Regions from separate parts of the Homo sapiens genome. Here region 2 is linked to region 1. The links come from fine-mapping of genetic effects on gene expression. A gene starts in region 1. The other region holds a variant in brackets. All regions are shown on one strand. Distances are from middle to middle. Region 1 holds the start of NFE2L2 (NFE2 like bZIP transcription factor 2). Region 2 overlaps NFE2L2 (NFE2 like bZIP transcription factor 2).

What was found. PIP is the estimated chance that this variant, and not a neighbour inherited with it, causes the effect.
Region 2: its variant is fine-mapped to the expression of NFE2L2 in whole blood (TOPMed, PIP 0.98).

What each region holds. Positions count from the first base shown.
Region 1 is chr2:177,259,453-177,270,420 of GRCh38, reverse strand. It overlaps NFE2L2 (NFE2 like bZIP transcription factor 2), which reads left to right and starts at 5,694. Exons shown (of 5, transcript NM_006164.5): 1 at 5,694-5,889. The coding sequence starts at 5,845. RefSeq lists silencers at 5,551-6,420, 6,681-6,840 and an enhancer at 6,521-7,720.
Region 2 is chr2:177,226,626-177,237,593 of GRCh38, reverse strand. NFE2L2 (NFE2 like bZIP transcription factor 2) reads left to right here. Exons shown (of 5, transcript NM_006164.5): 2 at 3,323-3,589; 3 at 4,255-4,344; 4 at 5,011-5,202; 5 at 5,586-7,286. The coding sequence ends at 6,809. It also overlaps the pseudogene DNAJC19P5. Among named protein-coding and RNA genes, the nearest start is that of HNRNPA3, 19 kb to the right of the region's middle. The variant A/G (reference allele first, on the strand shown) is at 6,897.

The DNA of each region.
Region 1 (10,968 bases):
TTTAATTCTAATATTACTCAAAGGGCAAAATGAGAGTCCATGGAATAGAAAGTGTCAGGAGACAATTATGTTGGCAAATCTCATTTCCCTTTTTTATTTTCCAGCCTCCAAGAATGTTATAGATTATCTGTAAGGTCTGTTTATGAGGATGCTCTGCTCTTCCATTCGTTGTAGTCTGCTTTTTGTTTGTTCAAAGTGGAAATAGTTTAATTGTTTTTATCCCTTAATTCTAAAAATGCTTTCTGTAAGGATTTGAATAATACAGAAAAATACAAAGATGGAAATGAAAATTATCTGATATTCTACTCCCATTATTAATATTTGAGAACTGTCCTTGAAGACATAGCTCTAGGCATAATGTTTTTCTGTATTTTATTTTCCCCACAAAGCGATGTTACGTTTGGGCTACTTTGCCTGTTACTGAGAGGCTGCAGTTCTTAATCTCTATTCATAAAATTTTGTCTTTGGTAATTCCTGTTCTGCTGAGTTAAACGTTGCAAATATAGCAGTAAATTGGAAGAGAAAGGATCTTTAGAACCTTACAACAACTACACTTAAAGATGTGGTAAAATTCTCCAGGCTCCACTCAAATAAATACAAAATGGAAAGATTTACAAAGCTTGTGGTTATAATTCAATTTGAAAATAAAACAGATCCAGTGGCATGGGAGAAAAGCAACGTTCTTTCCTTACTCCCACACCCTACTCCCACCTTTTTTCTTCTTCTTATAAAAGTAATGTATGCTGGCCAGTCACAATGGCTCATGCCTGTAATCCCAGCACTTGGGGAGGCTGAGGCAGGAGGACTGCTTGAGGCCAGGAGTTTGAGACCAGCCTGGGCAACATAGTGAGACTACCCCCTCTACAAAAAATTTTAAAATTAGCAGGGCATGGTGGTGCATGCTTGTCATCCCAGCTACTCAGGAGGCTGAAGTGGGAAGATTACTTGATCCCAGGAGGTCTAGGCTGCAATAAGCCATGATAGCACCACTGCATTCCAGCCTGGGTAACAGAGCGAGACCCTGTCTCAAAAAAAAAAAAGTATGTTTATTTATTTAGAACAATGTAAACATGGAAAAATGAGAAAAAAAAGTCATCAGTCTCCATCTAGTCAAAATAATTACGGTTAACATTTTGGAGTATATGCATTCTGTCTTTTTTTTCTGTGCATATATATTTATATAGGTATCAACACATAAAATTCAAAGGACTCTTTTAAACATTTTTCTCTTTACTCACTGCATTGCTGTTGCTGCAGGATACTTTTTCTTTATGAGCAGGAAACTACACAAGTTAAAACTGGCTTTGGAGATGTACAGCTCATTGTACCAGTAGTTTGCACAGTGAGGTGTACACCCCAGGGAACCAAGGATGCGGGTGTGTTTTGAAATTAATACACCAAATATTTTGAACACTGCTTTACTGGAGTTTGTTATTTTATTTACTTATTTATTTTTCGAGATGGAGTTTCGCTCTTGTTGCCCAGGCTGGAGTACAATGGCGCGATCTCGGCTCACTGCAACCTCCGCCTCCCGGATTCAAGCAATTCTCCTGCCTCAGCCTCCTGAGTAGCTAGCATTACAGGCATGCACCACCATGCCAAGCTAATTTTGTATTTTTAGTAGAGACAGGGTTTCTCCATGTTGGTCAGGCTGATCTCAAACTCCCGACCTCAGGTGATCCGCCCACCTTGGCCTCCCTGGGATTATAGGTGTGAGCCACCGCGCCTGGCCTATACTGGAGTTTAGTTTATCCACTGGGCAGGTTGCTCAAGTTCAAACTCCCTAAGCAGATATTCAGCGAGTATCTTACATAACTGGCACAAATGAGGTCATATCACGGTCAGAACCTCTGTATGCATTTATCCCTCCATCTACTTCATTGATAAAATGTCTGTGTTCGTGAAGTGTATTTTGATAAGGAGACTATCTCTCCATCGTCTAATAAAATGAAACTTATGCATGGTGTGATGAGGTTTTTTACTTTGTATGTAGCAACAAAGATATGTTATGGGAAAGACAGCTTCCTCATTCCCAGGGAAGTCATTTTCTTCTGAGAGTCTGAGTTTTATTAAATCACCAAGTATCATCTCCCTGTTTGTGCTCCCAATGTTGGTTAACAAACAAAGAGCAGCCAGGGGAAACCCTGCCTTTGATAGTCACCATACATACAGTATGCTGTTTTGGTTATCAATTGCTATGAAACAAACCACCCCCAAATTTAATAGCTGAAAGTGATTTATTATAATTTCTCACAGTTCTTGGTGTTGACTTAGCTTAGCCAGGGAGTCTTCTGCCGGTCTTGCTTACAGTCTCTTGTATGTGACTGCAGTCATATAGCAGCTGGAGCTGGAGTTCTTTGGGGGCTTGAATAGGTGGGCTCGAAGGTCCAAGATGGTTTCTTCATTCACATGTCTGGTGTGTTGGTTCACATAGTCTCTCTCTCTCCATTTAGAGTTTCATCTTCCATGACTTTTCCCATGGCCTCTCTTTCCATCAAGGTAGTCAGACCTCTTAGGATGATGGCTGACTTCCAAGAGTATAAAATTAAAAGCTGTCAGGGCTTTTTCAAGCTTAGGTTAAAACCTGGCATAATGTCACTTCTGGCCTCTTTCCATACCTTAAAGCAAGTTGCAGGGCCAGCCATGCTTGTTTCAATATGAGGGGACTAGACAAATGCCTCAATATCAGGAGAGGTGGTTTACTGGGTGCCATCTTTGGAAGCTTTCTATACTTTACACTGGACAAAGTAGAATTTCAACTACAATTCTAAAAGATTATGAATATTTTCTGGCTCAAACATGGAGAACAATTGAGAGGAAGTGACAGAGAGAGGAAGAAGCCTCAAAGTGATGGAGGATTTTGAAACAATCGGTACTTTCTTGCACCTTGCAACTTGGCAGATTGGAGCACAAAGGAGGTGGAACTAAGGGGTCAATGCATCACCATTATCCAGACTTCTTATACCCAGAAGACTTACTTGATGATACTTTTTTTTTAGACAGAGTCTCACTCTGTCGCCAGGCTGGAGTGCAGTGGCGTGATCTCGGCTCACTGCAACCTCCGCCTCCTGGGTTCAAGCAATTCTCCTGCCTCAGCCTCCCTGAGTAGCTGGGACTACAGGCGCATGCCACCACAACCAGCTAATTTTTGTATTTTTTAGTAGAGACAGGGTTTCACCACGTTGGCCAGGATGGTTTTGATCTCTTGACCTCGTGATCCGCCAGCCTCGGCCTCCCAAAGTGCTGGGATTATAGGCGTTAGCCAGAGCACCTGGCCAATGATGCTTATTTTTTATGAGCAATCTGGAGCAAGGTATCACAATTGACACATCTCAAGCATGTAGGGAAGGCCGTCTTCCCAAAGACAGCAAATGATTCAGGAATCAATGAAAAGGTACAAGAGTCAATAGAACATAAAACCAATTGGAGGGTATTTTTCCCAAATAGTAGCGAGGAGAGCCTGGCAGCAAAAAAGGATCCCATGGCAGCAAGACAGGAGAGAAAAACCAGCACCTCCTCTTTCTTGTTCTTTCTTGCTCCTCCAGAGCTTCTCAACATGCATTATCTGTGCCCTCCTAACACAATAGGCAGGTTTGGAGGGCAAAGCAAGGGCTCAGGCTCTCATATGAAGACAATCACATTCCAGAGTCTGCCAAGATTGGGCACCTCCTTGACGTGGGTGGTCTTGAGAATGGGGTTCCCTTTATTTGGCTAAACCAAATGCCAAACAGCTTTTCCTTAGTGTTTGTTTTTCTTAAACAAGTTCAAACTCTTATCATATTGCTCCCCTCCCTTTGAAAATATGTACTCTGCAGATGCCTGAAATAACACACTCTCAGCAAATTGCAGCATTGGAAAAGTGAAGGTTATTTCATTCAGTCTAAACTCAATGGAAATTTTGTGGCTTAACAAGGAAATACCAAATACTTTATAAACTCCTTTAGAGCAGTAACCATGTCATATGACTCTGGTATCTCCTACCTACTAGGCTCATTGTCTACCTTCTCTGATGTCGTAATTTTAATAAGTAACTTGAATTGTTAACAATTTACTCTTGTCTTTTTCTTGGACTCAGAAATGTTATTTTATTATTATGTCTCTGCATCTTTCATGTGAGGTCCTTTGCAAACAGTTTTCTCCTAACTTGTTTTCATTGTGCAGATCATGTTGCAGGGTTTTCACATAACAGCTGAAAGGAATTAATAGGAGTTAAAGAAGCTTGCTTCAATTACAAGTAATTAATTTAGGCTTCACTTATCTCAAGGAATATCTGAATATACAAATTTACACATAAATCCTGGGAGTGTCAAATTATGCAACCTAGAGAAAGTAAGCTCTGCAGCTTTTTGGGCGTTGATTGCTATAGTCAGGGGTGTGTGTGTGGTTTTTGAATGAAATAGCAAAACCACTGCCAGTATTATCTACTTCACCTGGTTTTGAATAATTCCAGGAAGCTAGAAACTGAAAACCAGTCTTGTATAGAGTTAGAAAGATTGTAAATGCAGAAGAGGAAGAAAAAAACAAAACTAAACCATTTATCTATCCTCTTTGAACCCTTATAAGAGTTCACAATATTCCTCGTTTCAAATACTTGAAGTCTTCTCTGGGCAATGATTAATTTTTAAATAATTGTTTTTAATGTAAGACATAAAACATACGCACTGCAGATTTAAAGCATACTTGGAAGTAACAAGGAGAAACATAAAAATCGTTGATTCCACAGCATTTAATATATTGGTAACCTTCAATTTTTTTCTAGGCACGTTTTTATAAAATGAGCCAATACTATACAAACGTTTTTGTAACTTTTTTTAATTTGTACTATTTTGTGAGTACGTGAAAAAGAAATTTGTAAAGAGTAAACGATTACAGCATGTTGTGGTATTACACACTGTTGAAGGGCGCCATCTGTGGCGTGGTGGCTGCGCTTTGGTGGGAAGAGGTTCTCTTGGGGTTCCCGTTTTTCTCCCAGCTCTGGGTGGGCAATACTGACCACTCTCCGACCTAAAGGGGCTTCTCCGTTTGCCTTTGACGACCTGAGCTTAGGAGAATGGAGACACGTGGGAGTTCAGAGGAGGGCGTTCAGGGTGACTGCGAACACGAGCTGCCGGAGCTGTCCACATCTCCCCTAGGCAGGGCCCACTGGCCCCAGCCCGGGAAGGGAGCAAGGGCGGGAGGGCAGTTGGCAGTGGCACGGTCTGGGTCCAAATCTTTAGCCCCCCCCACCCCGGCTGGCGCCATTCTCGGGCGGTAAAGTGAGATAAAAGCAGGGCAAGGTTCTGCAACTCCAAATCAGGGAGGCGCAGCTCCTACACCAACGCCTTTCCGGGGCTCCGGGTGTGTTTGTTCCAACTGTTTAAACTGTTTCAAAGCGTCCGAACTCCAGCGACCTTCGCAAACAACTCTTTATCTCGCGGGCGAGAGCGCTGCCCTTATTTGCGGGGGAGGGCAAACTGAACGCCGGCACCGGGGAGCTAACGGAGACCTCCTCTAGGTCCCCCGCCTGCTGGGACCCCAGCTGGCAGTCCCTTCCCGCCCCCGGACCGCGAGCTTCTTGCGTCAGCCCCGGCGCGGGTGGGGGATTTTCGGAAGCTCAGCCCGCGCGGCCGGCGGGGGAAGGAAGGGCCCGGACTCTTGCCCCGCCCTTGTGGGGCGGGAGGCGGAGCGGGGCAGGGGCCCGCCGGCGTGTAGCCGATTACCGAGTGCCGGGGAGCCCGGAGGAGCCGCCGACGCAGCCGCCACCGCCGCCGCCGCCGCCACCAGAGCCGCCCTGTCCGCGCCGCGCCTCGGCAGCCGGAACAGGGCCGCCGTCGGGGAGCCCCAACACACGGTCCACAGCTCATCATGATGGACTTGGAGCTGCCGCCGCCGGGACTCCCGTCCCAGCAGGTGCTGCCTCGGCCCTCTGGGCCCTGCGGTGGTGCCGGGACGGGGGCGGGGGAGCTAGGGAACCGCGGCCCGGGAGGGACAGCCGCAACCGGCTTCCCCCACGTCTGGCCAGAGCCAGGACCGCGGCGCTGGGTAGAGCCGCCGCGCTTGCGCCGGGGCAGGGCGGGGAGGGGCAGCGGGGACGCGGCCGGGTGATCCGACCGACCACGAGCCCGAGGGCGAACGGGTGGGAAGTTGCGGGAAGGTCTGGGGACTGAGCCCGCTCGCGTGGGCCTTGGGGGAGAATCCAGCCGCGTCCCCGGGCCCGAGAGCTGGGACTCCGGAGCCCCTAAGTTTGAGCGGCCCGGTGGGCGGCGGGGCAAGAGGGGGCGGACGCTGGCCGTCTGAGCCGGCGCGGCCCGGCCCTTCCGGGGCTGCGCGGCTCCCCCGCCTCGGTGCCGGCAAAAATGTGCCTAGTCACGGGGCCGCTCTCGGGGGAACTGAGGTCGCCTTCGGGCTGGGACCCGGAGCCCCTTCGCCGCGCCCCAAGACCTCCTTGAGTGCGGGCTGCGACGCGCTCACCCCGCTGGGCCGTCTGTGGGCGCGGCTTTGCGAAGTCATCCATCTCTCGGATCACTCTCTGGCAGCCTTGAGCTCTCTTGAAAGCCCAGCCCCGGGACGAGGGAGGAGCGCCTTAAGTGCCCAGCGGGCTCAGAAGCCCCGACGTGTGGCGGCTGAGCCGGGCCCCGCGCACTTTCTCGGCCGGGGAGGGGTTCGGGCTCGGGCACCCGGAGTTGGCCCCTCGTAACGCCGCGGGAAAGTGCGGGCGAGGGCAGTGGACTCTGAGGCCGGAGTCGGCGGCACCCGGGGCTTCTAGTTCGGACGCGGTGCCCCCTGGTGGCGCTCACCGCGCGCGTGGCCTTGGCTTCCGTGACAGCGCTCGGTTGGCCGTCACAGCAGCCCTCGGTTGGCCCTTTCCTGCTTTATAGCGTGCAAACCTCGCCGCGCCAGGGCCAAGGGACAGGTTGGAGCTGTTGATCTGTTGCGCAATTGCTATTTTCCCCAGAGCGGCTTTGTCTTTGGATTTAGCGTTTCAGAATTGCAATTCCAAAATGTGTAAGACGGGATATTCTCTTCTGTGCTGTCAAGGGTAAGAGTTGCGAGTGTAGATTAGAATTTCTGTTGCTTTTAGTCTGTTAGTAATTTTTTGCTTTCAGCTATTATTTCTCCCCTGAGTACTTTATATATGTTTCCTTTTCAGTTGAGAATTTGCCTCAATTTCTTAACATGTTCCCCCTCTTCTGCAGGGGCAGAGAGTGGAACGCTTGCGTTTCAAAACACTTGCTAATTTCTGTGAATTGTTATAAAAGTGAAAAGAAGTTTCTGCTCATCCTTTGTAGAAACTTTAAAAGTAGATATTTATATTTCTAACTTCTTTTGTAAATGAATTTTAGGAAAAAAATTGGAATTCAAGGAAATGTGTACTTGATGTACAGTAAATACGTTTATGCTGTTAAATGTAAAGTTTTCGGTTAATTCCAAAGATCTATTGTAAAGTTTTAAGTTATGGACAATGTATTAATTGTGCTTTTTTCCCCCTTTAAAGTTGTTTGTCTTGAACTTTTCCCCAGTCTTCATTGGGATTGTATTCTTCTGGTTCCAACTAGTGAAGAATTAAATTGTACCTTCCGATTTATTTAATAGCTGCTGTTCAAGAGTTATCTATAGGAATGCTTGTTTGACTGAAGGATATATGATAAAAATGAACTTTAGTTTTTCTGATTTCCGGAATTGTCTACAGCCCTCTATTATTTTTGAATTTTTCTTTCTTTGCTGTGTAATATAACATTCCTTATACAAAAATGCGTGAAACATATGTACCGCATTAAGTGTGTATTTTCCAATTACGTTTGATAAAAATAACTGCTTTTCTACCTTTGTAATCAGACATCGATTTGCATATTTGAAAACAGAAAAAGAACAAGAAAATTTAGAATTGATTTTGTTTATGATTCATATTAGATTGTTGTCATCCATAAAGATTTGAACAGAGTCAAACATTTTCTTGACCTTTTGTCAAAAAAAACTCTCCAGGTGTGAAGTGGTAGTAGGATATAGTTTTTCACCTTCTGTGCAGAGGATGTGTTGATAAACAGGGCAGTAAGGAGAGCCTTAGATTCAGTATCTCCATTAGGTGGAAGGAACCATCCATTACTCTTTTCAAGGGTGTCTTGGAGAGATAAAGCACTTTCCTAGATGAGGGATGAAGTTGATATTGAAATAGACCGATGAGATTATTTTTAAGTCAAACAAAAGAAAAATAGGACAGGCCTCTCATCTCCTGAATGAATGTTAAGCAAAGAACAACTTGACTTTTTAGATATGTGAAAAATCTCTTGAGAGGTTGTGGAAGCAGCATGTAGGAGGATAAATGCATAACTCACATCAGTCTTTTACGCATTAAAAATAACTTGGGCCATTTTGAAATCTTTCTTTCTTGCCCTGGGTTCTTATAAGCAATGTTGGGGGGAAAACTGACTCTGTCTTTAGGATTACCAGGAAAAGTTGAAAGCCAAATGCATCATTTTTCTTAATATTTGTTTTTATTGAGGATAAATCATGTTTAACAAAGCTGCATGAAAAAAAGGAACCCAACAAGTACATTTTTTTTTCTGGGAATTTCCTCTGTCCTGACTGAAGACATTTAAAGGGGGTTTTGTGTCAATATTTCCTCCTTAACTGTTCCTCAAGCCTGGGTTAACTTTTCAGTATGCAGGAAGAATTTGGCACTAAGATAATAATAGATAAGTTACTGGGCACGTCCCTGGGTGCCAGACATAATTGCTTCACATGCATAATTTTACAGTAACCTCACGGGAAATATTATTATCCCTGGTTTCCAGGTTGGGAAAACCAGGCATAATAGTTAGATCAGGCATTAGGTTAGGAAAGGTTAGGAGAGAGGCATAGAGAAAGGCCAGGACCTGCTAAGGTGACCATACTATTGAGTGGCCAAGGTAGCATTCAAACAGGTTTGACTCCTGGGGGCTTCTAATCACCACTTCCAGACTGTACCAAAACTCCTTAAACTCTAAATAGGAAGAAAAGCTCACACTTTAAAAAGTGGGTAAGTTGAGATTTGCCTATTCTGGGGGAAGGAGAGGCCGGAATATAAAAGATTAATGTCTGCAGCTTTTCCATTTAGCAAGACATTTAATCACTGTATGTGACGTGGGGAGGTGGACCTTGTTAAATACAGGGAGAGTGAATACAATCCATCAATGGTACCCACTGTGGTCCTTTTAAGGAAGACACAGAGGCCTCGGTGGATTCAATTTAGAAAGGCAGGACTGTTTTTTGTTTTTTGTTTTTTTTTTTTTTTGAGATGAAGTCTTGTTCTGTTGCCCAGGCTGGAATGCAGTGGCCTGATCTTGGCTCACTGCAGCCTCTACTTCCCGGGTTCAAGTGATTCTCCTGCTTCAGCCTCCCGAGTAGCTGGGATTATAGGCACCCACTGCCCGGCTAATTTTTGTATTTTTAGTAGAGATGGGGTTTTACCATGTTGGCCAGGCTGGGCTGGTCTCGAACTCCTGACCTCAGGTGATCCACCCGCCTCGGCCTCCCAAAGTGTTGGGATTACAGGTGTGAGCCACTGCGCCAGTCTGTTTCTTAATATAATAATAGTTTTAAAAATTTCTGATGTTTGGCAATGTCCAAGATTCTGCCTCACATTTTTCAGAAACTGCCTTTTTTCTTAATTAAATCTCTTAGCTACTGGAGTCTTTGCCTTTGTTTGCCTTGCTACTTGGTACATTTCTTCTGTTCCATTGGCTCTTTTTGTTTTGAAGTAGTGCTCAAAAATAAGTTTGGTAGTAAGAATATGGTGAAGAGTGTGACAGACAGGGTTAAACCAGGCTGAAGGAAAGAGAGCAGAATGGGGAAAATTTGAGTTGAAAACAGCTAGCAGAAAGCTGATGGCGCAAATTCAACCCTAATCTCATGTTTTGGCACTTCTGAACTATAGCAAGCATAAGGGCTCAACTCTTATCTAGTTGAAGCTTACTTGGGTCTTTGAGAATAGTACATCTCAAAATTAAACACTTTCTTAGTCCTTATTGTTAAGTTGTTTTTGGAATTATTGTCTTATTTGTCTGAATTAAGTGTGCTGCAGGACTTATAGGATCTGATGGATGATTTGCCTAAAAGTTGGTCCAGGTCAACCTCAGGGCATTTAAATGCTTGGTCCAGCCACTTTCTGAAAGTTGACTGAAATATGTTGCACAGCAGGGTAGAGGAGGACAAGTTTACTAGATGTCATTTTTAACCTGCTTGTCTTCATCTCTGACTGTAGAAATGTATATTCATTATAAGTTTGCCACAAATAGAGAATAGAGTTTATTCTTTGATCATCTAATTTCTAGGAGCTATTGAAATTTCACTGCTACCTGCTTTTAAATAAGCGCCAACAAACATTTATTAAAAGGGCTTTAAGGTATAGGCCAAGATTTATTCAATTGCTAATGGTATGTTTTCTGTAAATGAAAGCAAAAATATGTTCAAGTGTATAATATTAAATATTAACATTCAGAAACTTGGAGAAATACAGATGGCTTTTTTTTTTGAGACGCAGTCTTGCTCTGTCGCCCAGGCTGGAGTGCAGTGGCATGATCTCCGCTCACTGCAAGCTCCACCTCCCGGGTTCACGCCATTCTCCTGCCCCAGCCTCCCGAGTAGCTGGTACTACAGGCACCCGCCACCACGCCTGGCTAATTTTTTGTATTTTTAGTAGAGATGGGGTTTCACTGTGTTAGCCAGGATGATCTCGATCTCCTGACCTCATGATCCGCCTGCCTCAGCCTCCCAAAGTGCTGGGATTACAAGCTTAAGCCACCGCGCCTGGCCTAGATGGATTTCTTGTACCAGACTATACCCTAGACATGAAAACAAGACTGTTAAACAAAATCCTGTGCTACCTAAAGTTTGAGCCTTCTGTGTGTCAGTTTCTGCCATAATAAATAACTCTTAACTATGATTATTAAGTATATTAAGAACTTTGAGTAGGGGAGGCACGTTTAATCATTCGTTTTTACGGCATATGTA
Region 2 (10,968 bases), 33 kb after region 1:
TGAGCTGAGATTGTGCCACTGCACTCCAGCCTGGGCGACAGAGCGAGACTCCGTCTCAAAAAAAAATAAAATAAAGTAGGTTTCTCTATACCTTTGAATTTTCTGTCTCCCATGATAACCTTTGGGTAAACATGTCCATCAGAATGGAAACAAATCATTTTTTAAAATAGAAATTATTCTCATACCTATTTTAGTGGGAATCCCCCTGAGAAGATAGCCATGTATAGTCGACTGAATGCTCTGTGGTTGCTATTTTGTTGCTCTTGGCCAGGAAACTGATCTAGGTGACCTACAGACTTAATCTGACCTGCAGACTGGCCGCTTCATACTACCAAGATTCCAAAGCCAAGTGTATATACAGTCGGCCCATGCAGCCTCTGGTTCCATGATGCAACCAATGGCAGATTGGTTCAAAAATATTTGGAAAAAGGCCAAGCACAGTGGAGTGGTTCATGCCTGTAATCCTAGCACTTTGGGAAGCTGAGGCAGGAAAATCAATGGAGCCCGGGAATTCAAGACCAGCCTGGGCAAAATGGCAAGACGCCATCTCTACAAAAAGTAATTAGCTGGGCTTGGTGGCATGTGCCTGTAGTCCCAGCTACTTGGGAGGCTGAGGTGGGAGGATCACTTGAGCCCAGGTGAAGGCTGCAGTGAGCCATGATTGCATCACCACACTCCAGCCTGGGTGACAGAGTGAGACCCTATCTCAAAATGAGTAAATAAATAATAAAATTTCAAAAGGAAAAAAGTGGAAAAAAAACCCGAAAAAATAACAATACACACATAAAATACAGTATAACAACTATTTACACAGCATTTACACTTTACTAGGTATTGTAAGTAATCCAGGGATGAGTTAAAGTATATAAAGGGATATGCATAGGTTATTTGCAGCAAATGCCATGCCATTTTATAATAGTGTAGGCTCATGGCTAATAAAGCATGAACCCGACTGAAGCTGCCTGGGTATGTGTCTTTGTTCAGCCACTTTCTGGTAGTATCTTTTTTCTTAACCTCAGTATTCTTATACTGTATAACAGGAATGTTTTCTCTGTATAAGGCTGTTTTGAGGAATAGTTTCTATATGTAAAGTACTTAGAACAGTGCATAGCATATAGGAAGCCCTTAATAGATACTGGCTTAAAGATAATTAGGTATGTCCTAGTGAGGTATACCTAACTACAAGTGCTACTTTAACTATGCCTACTTTGTGTGCTTTACAATATATATTGTTCAAGGCTAGAATAATGAGCCCCATGAGCAGGGTTTCATAGCATTTAAGATTCCAACGCCAACCTTCAATCATGGACACAGGTGGCCTGTGCCATCTAGCTAGCTGCGCTGCCTCCAGGCTGGGTGGCCTGCTCCTCTGTTGGATAAAAATAGCCTGACTCCTCACTGAAACAACCACCATGTTATTTGCGTCCTTGGGAAGCTGAAAGTAATAGAACTCTAAGTCTGGCGTTGCCAGCTGTCAGCAGAATGAAATGCAAAGTGTGACGTGTCTACACTGTACCCACTGGCCTTCAAGTCCCAACTCCCGTTCCCCCATCTTGATTTTTTTCCATTCTCAAATTAATTATTTCCCCTATAGGTGATTTGTGGAATGGAAACAGATTTAGATTTCCTACCTATTTAGATTTTTCCAAAGACTAAAATTACAAATCAGAAAAACTGCTATTGACACATTTTTGGTTAGGAAAATCTGGATGTGGTTCCTATGCCTAGCCTAGTCATATAAATTCTCTCCCCATGTATCTTTTTGTGTGTGTGAAACAGGGTCTTGTCACCCAAGCTGGAGTGCAGTGGTACAATCACAGCTCACCATGGCCTTGACTTCCTGGGCTCAAGCAATCCTCTCACTTCAGTCTCCCTAATAGTTGGGACTACAGGCTCGTATCACCACGTGCAACTAATTTGTTTTGATTTTGGGTAGAAACAGGTGTCACTATGGTGCCCAGGCTAGTAACTCCTGTGCTCCAGCAATCCTCCTGCCTTGGCCTCCCAAACTCCTGGGATTACAGGCCTGAGTCACCAAGCTCAGCCTCTCCTCATCAAAACCATTCCCTCTTTGTAAGATTCTTCCTATGTCTTAAAACTTAATACCTTTAATCCTTCCCTGGAGCCATAGTTTTATTTATTTATTTATTTATTTATGAGACAGGGTCTCACTTTGTTGCCCGGGCTGGAGTGCAGTGACACGATCATAGCTCACTGCTGCCATGACCTCCTGGACTGAAGTGATCCTCCTACCTCAGCCTCCTGAGTAGCTGGGACCACAGGTGTGCGCCACCACACCAGTTGTTGTTGTTGTTGTTTGTTTTTGTTTTGGTAGAAACAGGGTCTCTCCATGTTGCCCAGGCTGGTCGCGAACTCCTGGGCTCAAGCAATCCACCTGCCTCAGCCTCCCAAAGTGCTGGGCTTGTAGGCGTGAGCCACCGCACCTGTCCCTGTCTGCTTTTATTTTATTTTTTTTTGAGATGGAGTCTTGCTCTGTTGCCCAGGCTGGAGTGCAGTGGTGCGATCTCAGCTGACTGCAACCTCTGCCTCCCAGGTTCAAGCCGATTCTCCTGCCTCAGCCTCCTGAGTAGCTGGGATTACAGGCACGTACCACCACACCCGGCTGATTTTTGTATTTTTAGTAGAGACGTGGTTTCACCATGTTGGCCAGGCTGATCTCGAACTCCAGACCTCAGGTGATCCACCCACCTTGGCCTCCCAAAGTGCTGGGATTACAGGCATATAGGTAAGCCACAGAGATAAGAGTAGCAAGCAGTGATGGGGAGAAGATAATCTAGTGTAGGAAAGATGGAAAGAATGGTGATATTTCACAACTGCTAGATTGACACTTTAACTTGAGAGTTATCCCTCTATAAACTGGATATTTGCTGAGCAAAGTTTAAAGAAAACTCCATGTATTCAGTAATGTTTTCCAGACCCCACTTCTCTTATATAAGCCAGTGGCTTAGAGTGCTTGCTCTAATTTCTATATTCCATTAAACAAGGGTGGGATTTCTTCTCATTCAAACCATTTGTGACTTTGCCCTTTAGTGACCTCTACCATCACCCTATCATTAATGATCCAAGTGATTAGAATGGATGGCTATGTGTTTGTAGGTTGTTTGTTGTCTTTAATGAATAGATTCATTGAATGGAATTAACTGTGCTCTTCTAGAACATTGGATCTGTGTTCTCATTTAGATTGTATTTGTAATCTCCCCACTTCCCACCATCAACAGTGGCATAATGTGAATTAATTTATGTGGTATCTGTCATTTAAAAAACATGAGCTCTCTCCTTCCTTTTTTTGTCTTAAACATAGGACATGGATTTGATTGACATACTTTGGAGGCAAGATATAGATCTTGGAGTAAGTCGAGAAGTATTTGACTTCAGTCAGCGACGGAAAGAGTATGAGCTGGAAAAACAGAAAAAACTTGAAAAGGAAAGACAAGAACAACTCCAAAAGGAGCAAGAGAAAGCCTTTTTCGCTCAGTTACAACTAGATGAAGAGACAGGTGAATTTCTCCCAATTCAGCCAGCCCAGCACATCCAGTCAGAAACCAGTGGATCTGCCAACTACTCCCAGGTACAGAGTACTCAGTTCTTGGGAAAGTTATGGCAGGTTTAAGGAAACACTGAGCAAGGAATTAAAATATCTGGATTTGAGTTCCAGCTTTGCCTTTCTTTTACTTAACCTTGTCAAATCTACTTTCCAACCTCAGCCTCCTGATGAGTTCAGTACCTAACCTGAGTTCAGTACCCAACCTATTGATCTTAACAGTGTTATTGTGAGGATTGGGAAGACTTAAGTTACACCAAAGAGTTTTGTAAAGTATAGAAACATCCTGTAAGGATCAAGTAGCAGCAACAGAAGTAGTAGCAGGAGAACCAAGTAGCAGGGATTACTGGCGTTACTGTGTGTGGCAAGCACTGTTTTAAGAACATATACTGACTGATTTAATTAACACAACTATATTAATTAGTTACCATTATCCCTGTTTTATCTACGATGAGCAACTGAAGCTCACAAAGGTTAAATAATTTGCCCAGATCACTCAGAAAATTGGAGGAGCTAAGATCTGAACCCATGTGGTCTAGTTCAAATTGTGCATCAAAGTGATCTCTGAAATAAGATAAATATTTACTTAACTTGATTATAAATATTTTATGAACATCAATTATTGAATATTTAGCTTGGCAATGGAATATTTAACCATTTTTGTTTTCCTTTGTGTCATTCCCTTTTATCAGGTTGCCCACATTCCCAAATCAGATGCTTTGTACTTTGATGACTGCATGCAGCTTTTGGCGCAGACATTCCCGTTTGTAGATGACAATGAGGTGAGGTATAAAATAACCTGGTTAATAGAAAAACTCCATCATAACTATAAAATAACAATCTATTCTATGTAAGTCCCGTCAATGAATCTCCATTTAAAAGAATAAAAACATTTTTAGGAGGAAATTTTTTAACCAAGGAAATACTCTTGTCAAGGAAACCTTAGCCTATAAATAACTTTACAATTAAGAAAAAAAAAAACCCTTCACACAATACAAAACCAAAACCATTGACTATTGCATAGCCAGAAACATGGACAGCATAACCATGGAAACAAATAACCCATTTGCTGCAAGTATCTAAGAGGTTTGGTGAGTAAAGAGCCAGCTGGGCAATAAACGAAGACTTGTTCAGTTAACAATTTTAATAAATCTGTTTTATCTAGTACCACTGTGCTAGATATTATATAAACTAAATCCTAAAGATTGTACTTACGCATTTTAAAGTTTACTTTCAAATGCTTAAGCTGAAACAGACCAGCAAATTATAAATTTGAGTCAGTGGGGTAGGAAAAAAAGATTTGTTATTTACAAACGGGGTCATGACTGGTTAGTAAGTAGAGAGACACAGAACTGCAGCTGATTCCATTTTGTTTTGTAGTGGTGCCTTAGAGCTTACTCATCCCCTGTTGGTGGAAGACTCATAAATCAATGCCTTATCAATTTTAGGTTTCTTCGGCTACGTTTCAGTCACTTGTTCCTGATATTCCCGGTCACATCGAGAGCCCAGTCTTCATTGCTACTAATCAGGCTCAGTCACCTGAAACTTCTGTTGCTCAGGTAGCCCCTGTTGATTTAGACGGTATGCAACAGGACATTGAGCAAGTTTGGGAGGAGCTATTATCCATTCCTGAGTTACAGGTAACTAAAATAGAATGTAATACTGGAGATTTTTTTTATATTCAGTGCCTTTAGTCATTCTGATTATTTATATACCACCTATTTATAGGAAGGATTGGAGGGTGCTATTAACTTAGTCATGAGTACTGCCCATGCTAGTTAAATTGGTTGGACATCTTGAGGATAGAATGTTATAAACCTGACGTCTGATCTGGGAACTCTGAAAATAATACATAACGCTTAGGCGTAAATATGTATTGGAAATGAGAATTATCTCTGAATTATAGATAATAAATTATAGAGATAAGCCTGAAGATAATGTGGGTAGGGAGTTTATCTAAATTTATCACGTATTATCATGGATTAACTTTGATTTATATAGTATAAACTTCCTTCTCATGCAGTGTCTTAATATTGAAAATGACAAGCTGGTTGAGACTACCATGGTTCCAAGTCCAGAAGCCAAACTGACAGAAGTTGACAATTATCATTTTTACTCATCTATACCCTCAATGGAAAAAGAAGTAGGTAACTGTAGTCCACATTTTCTTAATGCTTTTGAGGATTCCTTCAGCAGCATCCTCTCCACAGAAGACCCCAACCAGTTGACAGTGAACTCATTAAATTCAGATGCCACAGTCAACACAGATTTTGGTGATGAATTTTATTCTGCTTTCATAGCTGAGCCCAGTATCAGCAACAGCATGCCCTCACCTGCTACTTTAAGCCATTCACTCTCTGAACTTCTAAATGGGCCCATTGATGTTTCTGATCTATCACTTTGCAAAGCTTTCAACCAAAACCACCCTGAAAGCACAGCAGAATTCAATGATTCTGACTCCGGCATTTCACTAAACACAAGTCCCAGTGTGGCATCACCAGAACACTCAGTGGAATCTTCCAGCTATGGAGACACACTACTTGGCCTCAGTGATTCTGAAGTGGAAGAGCTAGATAGTGCCCCTGGAAGTGTCAAACAGAATGGTCCTAAAACACCAGTACATTCTTCTGGGGATATGGTACAACCCTTGTCACCATCTCAGGGGCAGAGCACTCACGTGCATGATGCCCAATGTGAGAACACACCAGAGAAAGAATTGCCTGTAAGTCCTGGTCATCGGAAAACCCCATTCACAAAAGACAAACATTCAAGCCGCTTGGAGGCTCATCTCACAAGAGATGAACTTAGGGCAAAAGCTCTCCATATCCCATTCCCTGTAGAAAAAATCATTAACCTCCCTGTTGTTGACTTCAACGAAATGATGTCCAAAGAGCAGTTCAATGAAGCTCAACTTGCATTAATTCGGGATATACGTAGGAGGGGTAAGAATAAAGTGGCTGCTCAGAATTGCAGAAAAAGAAAACTGGAAAATATAGTAGAACTAGAGCAAGATTTAGATCATTTGAAAGATGAAAAAGAAAAATTGCTCAAAGAAAAAGGAGAAAATGACAAAAGCCTTCACCTACTGAAAAAACAACTCAGCACCTTATATCTCGAAGTTTTCAGCATGCTACGTGATGAAGATGGAAAACCTTATTCTCCTAGTGAATACTCCCTGCAGCAAACAAGAGATGGCAATGTTTTCCTTGTTCCCAAAAGTAAGAAGCCAGATGTTAAGAAAAACTAGATTTAGGAGGATTTGACCTTTTCTGAGCTAGTTTTTTTGTACTATTATACTAAAAGCTCCTACTGTGATGTGAAATGCTCATACTTT[A/G]TAAGTAATTCTATGCAAAATCATAGCCAAAACTAGTATAGAAAATAATACGAAACTTTAAAAAGCATTGGAGTGTCAGTATGTTGAATCAGTAGTTTCACTTTAACTGTAAACAATTTCTTAGGACACCATTTGGGCTAGTTTCTGTGTAAGTGTAAATACTACAAAAACTTATTTATACTGTTCTTATGTCATTTGTTATATTCATAGATTTATATGATGATATGACATCTGGCTAAAAAGAAATTATTGCAAAACTAACCACTATGTACTTTTTTATAAATACTGTATGGACAAAAAATGGCATTTTTTATATTAAATTGTTTAGCTCTGGCAAAAAAAAAAAATTTTAAGAGCTGGTACTAATAAAGGATTATTATGACTGTTAAATTATTTGTTTGGGATTCCTTTGAGTTTATTCACACAGTATTTTCCATAAGATAATCATCCATTTAATTTAGATGTTTTGCATTTTCAGAATGTTTTATTTGAAAATATAAAAATAATTTTATACTACATTTCTAGTACCAGGGTTACAGAGAAATAAAGTATATCAAGAGGATACTTTGCCTCTTCAATAGCAGGTACATCTAAACCCAAGAAAATGTTACACACTGACATGAAAGCACTGATTCATTTATTTCCATCAGTAGACATACGCCCACTATACCCTAGGCAGAGTTTGAAGTAGAAAGGACAAAACCAATATCCCTGCCTGGCCTGGAACTTGCATTCTAGCGAAGGGGAGGTAACAAGCATACTCCACTATGTTAGAAGGAACTGGACGGGGAAAACCAGTAAAAAGCGTCACAACTTAAGGCTGTAAATGGGAAGAGCCTTACTGAAGTGGCAACATTTGAAGGTGTGGGAGAAGCTGTTCTCATAGCCAAGAACACTGCAGACAAGACACAGCAGGTCCAAAGGCTGAACCACATTTGAGAAAAAACAAGGACAATGTGGCTGAAGAAAGGGATGGGGGTGGAATATGACAGAGCCTCGTAAGTCTACGTAAGTGAGGTGGGGCGCTAATGGTGCTGTTCAGGAGTAACACTCAACTGTTTTTTTAAAGTTCCCTCTGGGGTTTGTGACTGCTGGCAGTGGCTGCCTAGCTTTCTGGTAAAGGAGTGTAGTTAGTGGCAGGTGGCTGTACCAATCCAGATGGAGGTGAAAGAAGCTGAGCTGCAGCCACGGTCAGTACAGTGGTGGCAGCTGGACTGGCCATTTCTGCTGCAGGTTTTGCAAGTCAGGAAGCACATATAGCCTGAAGTAAAACAGGATTTTCAAAGTCTACCAAAATCTGCCTTCAGCGGTGGCTATTAGAGAGGTGGGCTTGAACTAAAAAGGACAAAATGGGAAGCAGCAATACTACCTCTAAGCCTTACTGCCATTAAAGGAAAAATAAGAGATGCTCAGTAACAAATATGATCTTAAATCGCCCAAAGAAGGATCTCCTTATATAGCAACCCAAATCAATGAAGCTAAGGATTTACTACGTCAAGCTCAAAAATGAAATCAATGTATGATGAATTTTAGGTTCCTACTACTTTTTATGTGTATGAGTATCAACTTTCTATAAAATGCCTCAGAGCTACAACTTTTAACATTTCCTCTGGCTTGTGTGTTGAGAACAGTATAGAGGGTAAGGATGGGAGTAGAAAACCAATTGAGAGGTTCATGCATTATGATGGCAGCTTGGTCTAGAGTGATAGAAGAGGGGTAGTCAGGGACATTGGATTCTGCCATGTCTCAGAGAACTAAAAGGATTTTCTGGTAGAATGGATGTGAGTCAAGAAGTTTAACATCTTTAAGAATTGAGTTGTCTGAGGATGGAGAAGACTGGATAGAGGGAGACCCACGTGGGAAAATCAGTTCCTTTTTGGACATACCGAGAGATCTATTAGACGTTAACTAGAGTGTACAAAAACAAGTCCCCTCAAAACCCTTTGAAAATCTGCATGCTTTCCAACGAGCCATTCAGTTATCGATTATTTCTTCACCTAAGCAGGTTTCACTTGTTCATATTGTTTTGCCTTTTTAAAGTGAGGAAATGGAGATTCATTAAGTATGTTTAAAATAAGCACTGCATGTGTAACTATTCAGTGAAGACTCCTAGCAACACTGCATGGGCTTGCTGCTAATTCCTAGAATGGCGTTTAGCAACTCACTTTAGCACTTTTTTTTTTTTTTTTTTTTGAGACAGAGTCTCGCTCTGTCACCCAGGCTGGAGTGCATTGGCGCTGTCTCGGCTCACTGCAAGCTCCACCTCCCGGGTTCACGCCATTCTCCTGCCTCCTCTTAAGCATATTTTCTCATCTATAAAGCAGAGTGGTACTCAGTGGGTCACCCCACAAAAAGCACTGCGCCTAGCTCATAGTAAACATTGCATAAATGATGGGTGTTTTGTCAATTTCCTTTGGTCTTGTATTATGCTTTTTGGCTACAAGTGAATCCAGTCAAATTAGCTTACTAGAGAATTTCACTGTTAAAGTTCAGGATTGAAAATGACTTCAAGGACTAATGAATCTAAGGGTTCAAATGTGAAGATTTTTTTTTTTTCTTGAGATGGAGTCCCACTCTGTCACCCACGATGGAGTGCAGTGGCACAATCTTGGCTCACTGCAACCCGCACTTCCCAGGTTCAAGTGATTCTCCTGCCTCAGCCTCCCAAGTAGCTGGGATTACAAGTACCTGCCACCCACCTGGTTAAATTTTTTTTTTTTTTTTTTTTTTTTTTGCATTTTTAGTGGAGACAGGGTTTCACCATGTTGACCAGGGTGGTATGGAACTCCTGACCTCAAGTGATCTGCCTGCCTTGGCCTCCCAAAGTGCTAGGATTACACGGGAGCCACCACACCAAGCCAAGTGTGAAGATTTGGGGTCCTGAATATTTTTCACGTGCTATCAAGGAACTTCCTTCCTCTGATGGTGTGGTGATGGGGAATCTCGGGAGAAGACATCACTTTTCCAAACTCAGAACATAATCCCAGGTCTTGAACAAACTGTCTATTCTTAGACCAAATTGTGAGTGCAGAGATGGTGGCAAGAATCTCAGCAGCAGCTATCTGGAGCACCTAACATTGACTGATATTTGAAGGGGGAAGAGCATTGCTGGGCAGACAAAAACAGACATTCTTTGGTAGTAAACTTCAACGTATTCTGACCAATTCATACGAGGGAACTGGCCATAGAAACTTATGGTACCTAAAAATATTACAGTGAAGAATAAAAAATTATTGTGAGAAATTACAAATTTCAAATAACAAATCTCAACTATGCCATGACTAATAAAACCAAGTGTTCATTTCTCTTGATCTGCATTTGAATTGAGAGCTTTATACCTGACTGTCCTCAAATTTGACTATCAAACTGTAATTGCACAACTTTGTATAAAAACCTTTCTTCTTGCCAAGATTTCCCAAGTTCCTGTTTTTGAGGGGAGCGCTGCTCAAATATGTTTGCCATATCTATATTTGTGACTAAGCCTCAGAATATATACAAGATAATTCTCATTCCAATTTAAAGATGATAGCTACCAGGGCACTTTGTTTTCAGTTGATGCTGTTTTGACACTTGAGAACTTGAAAAAAATTAAAGACTAGAAAACTTCAGGGCCGGGTGTGGTGGCTCACGCCTGTAATCCCAGGTGGGAGGCTGAGGCGGGTGGATCACGAGGTCAGGAGATCGAGACCCTGTTCAACACGGTGAAACCCTGTCTCTACTAAAAATACAAAAAATTAGCCGGGCGTGGTGGCGGGCGCCTGTAGTCCCAACTACTCGGAAAGCTGAGGCAGGAGAATGGCGTGGACCCGGGAGGTGGAGCTTGCAGTAAGCAGAGATCGCGCCACTGCATTCCAGCCTGGGAGACAGAGCGAGACTCCGTCTCAAAAAAACAAAAAACAAAAGAAAACTTCAATCCTATGTTGGGGGGTGGGGGAGAAACGCTTAAGACATTGACATAACTTTTATCACCCATTAAAATTTTAGGTATGCTTCAGGATATCCTTGTAAGACAGTATCCAGCATTACCAAGACACTATCTTTAGGGTCCATAAGACAGGTACTAAGTTCTTTA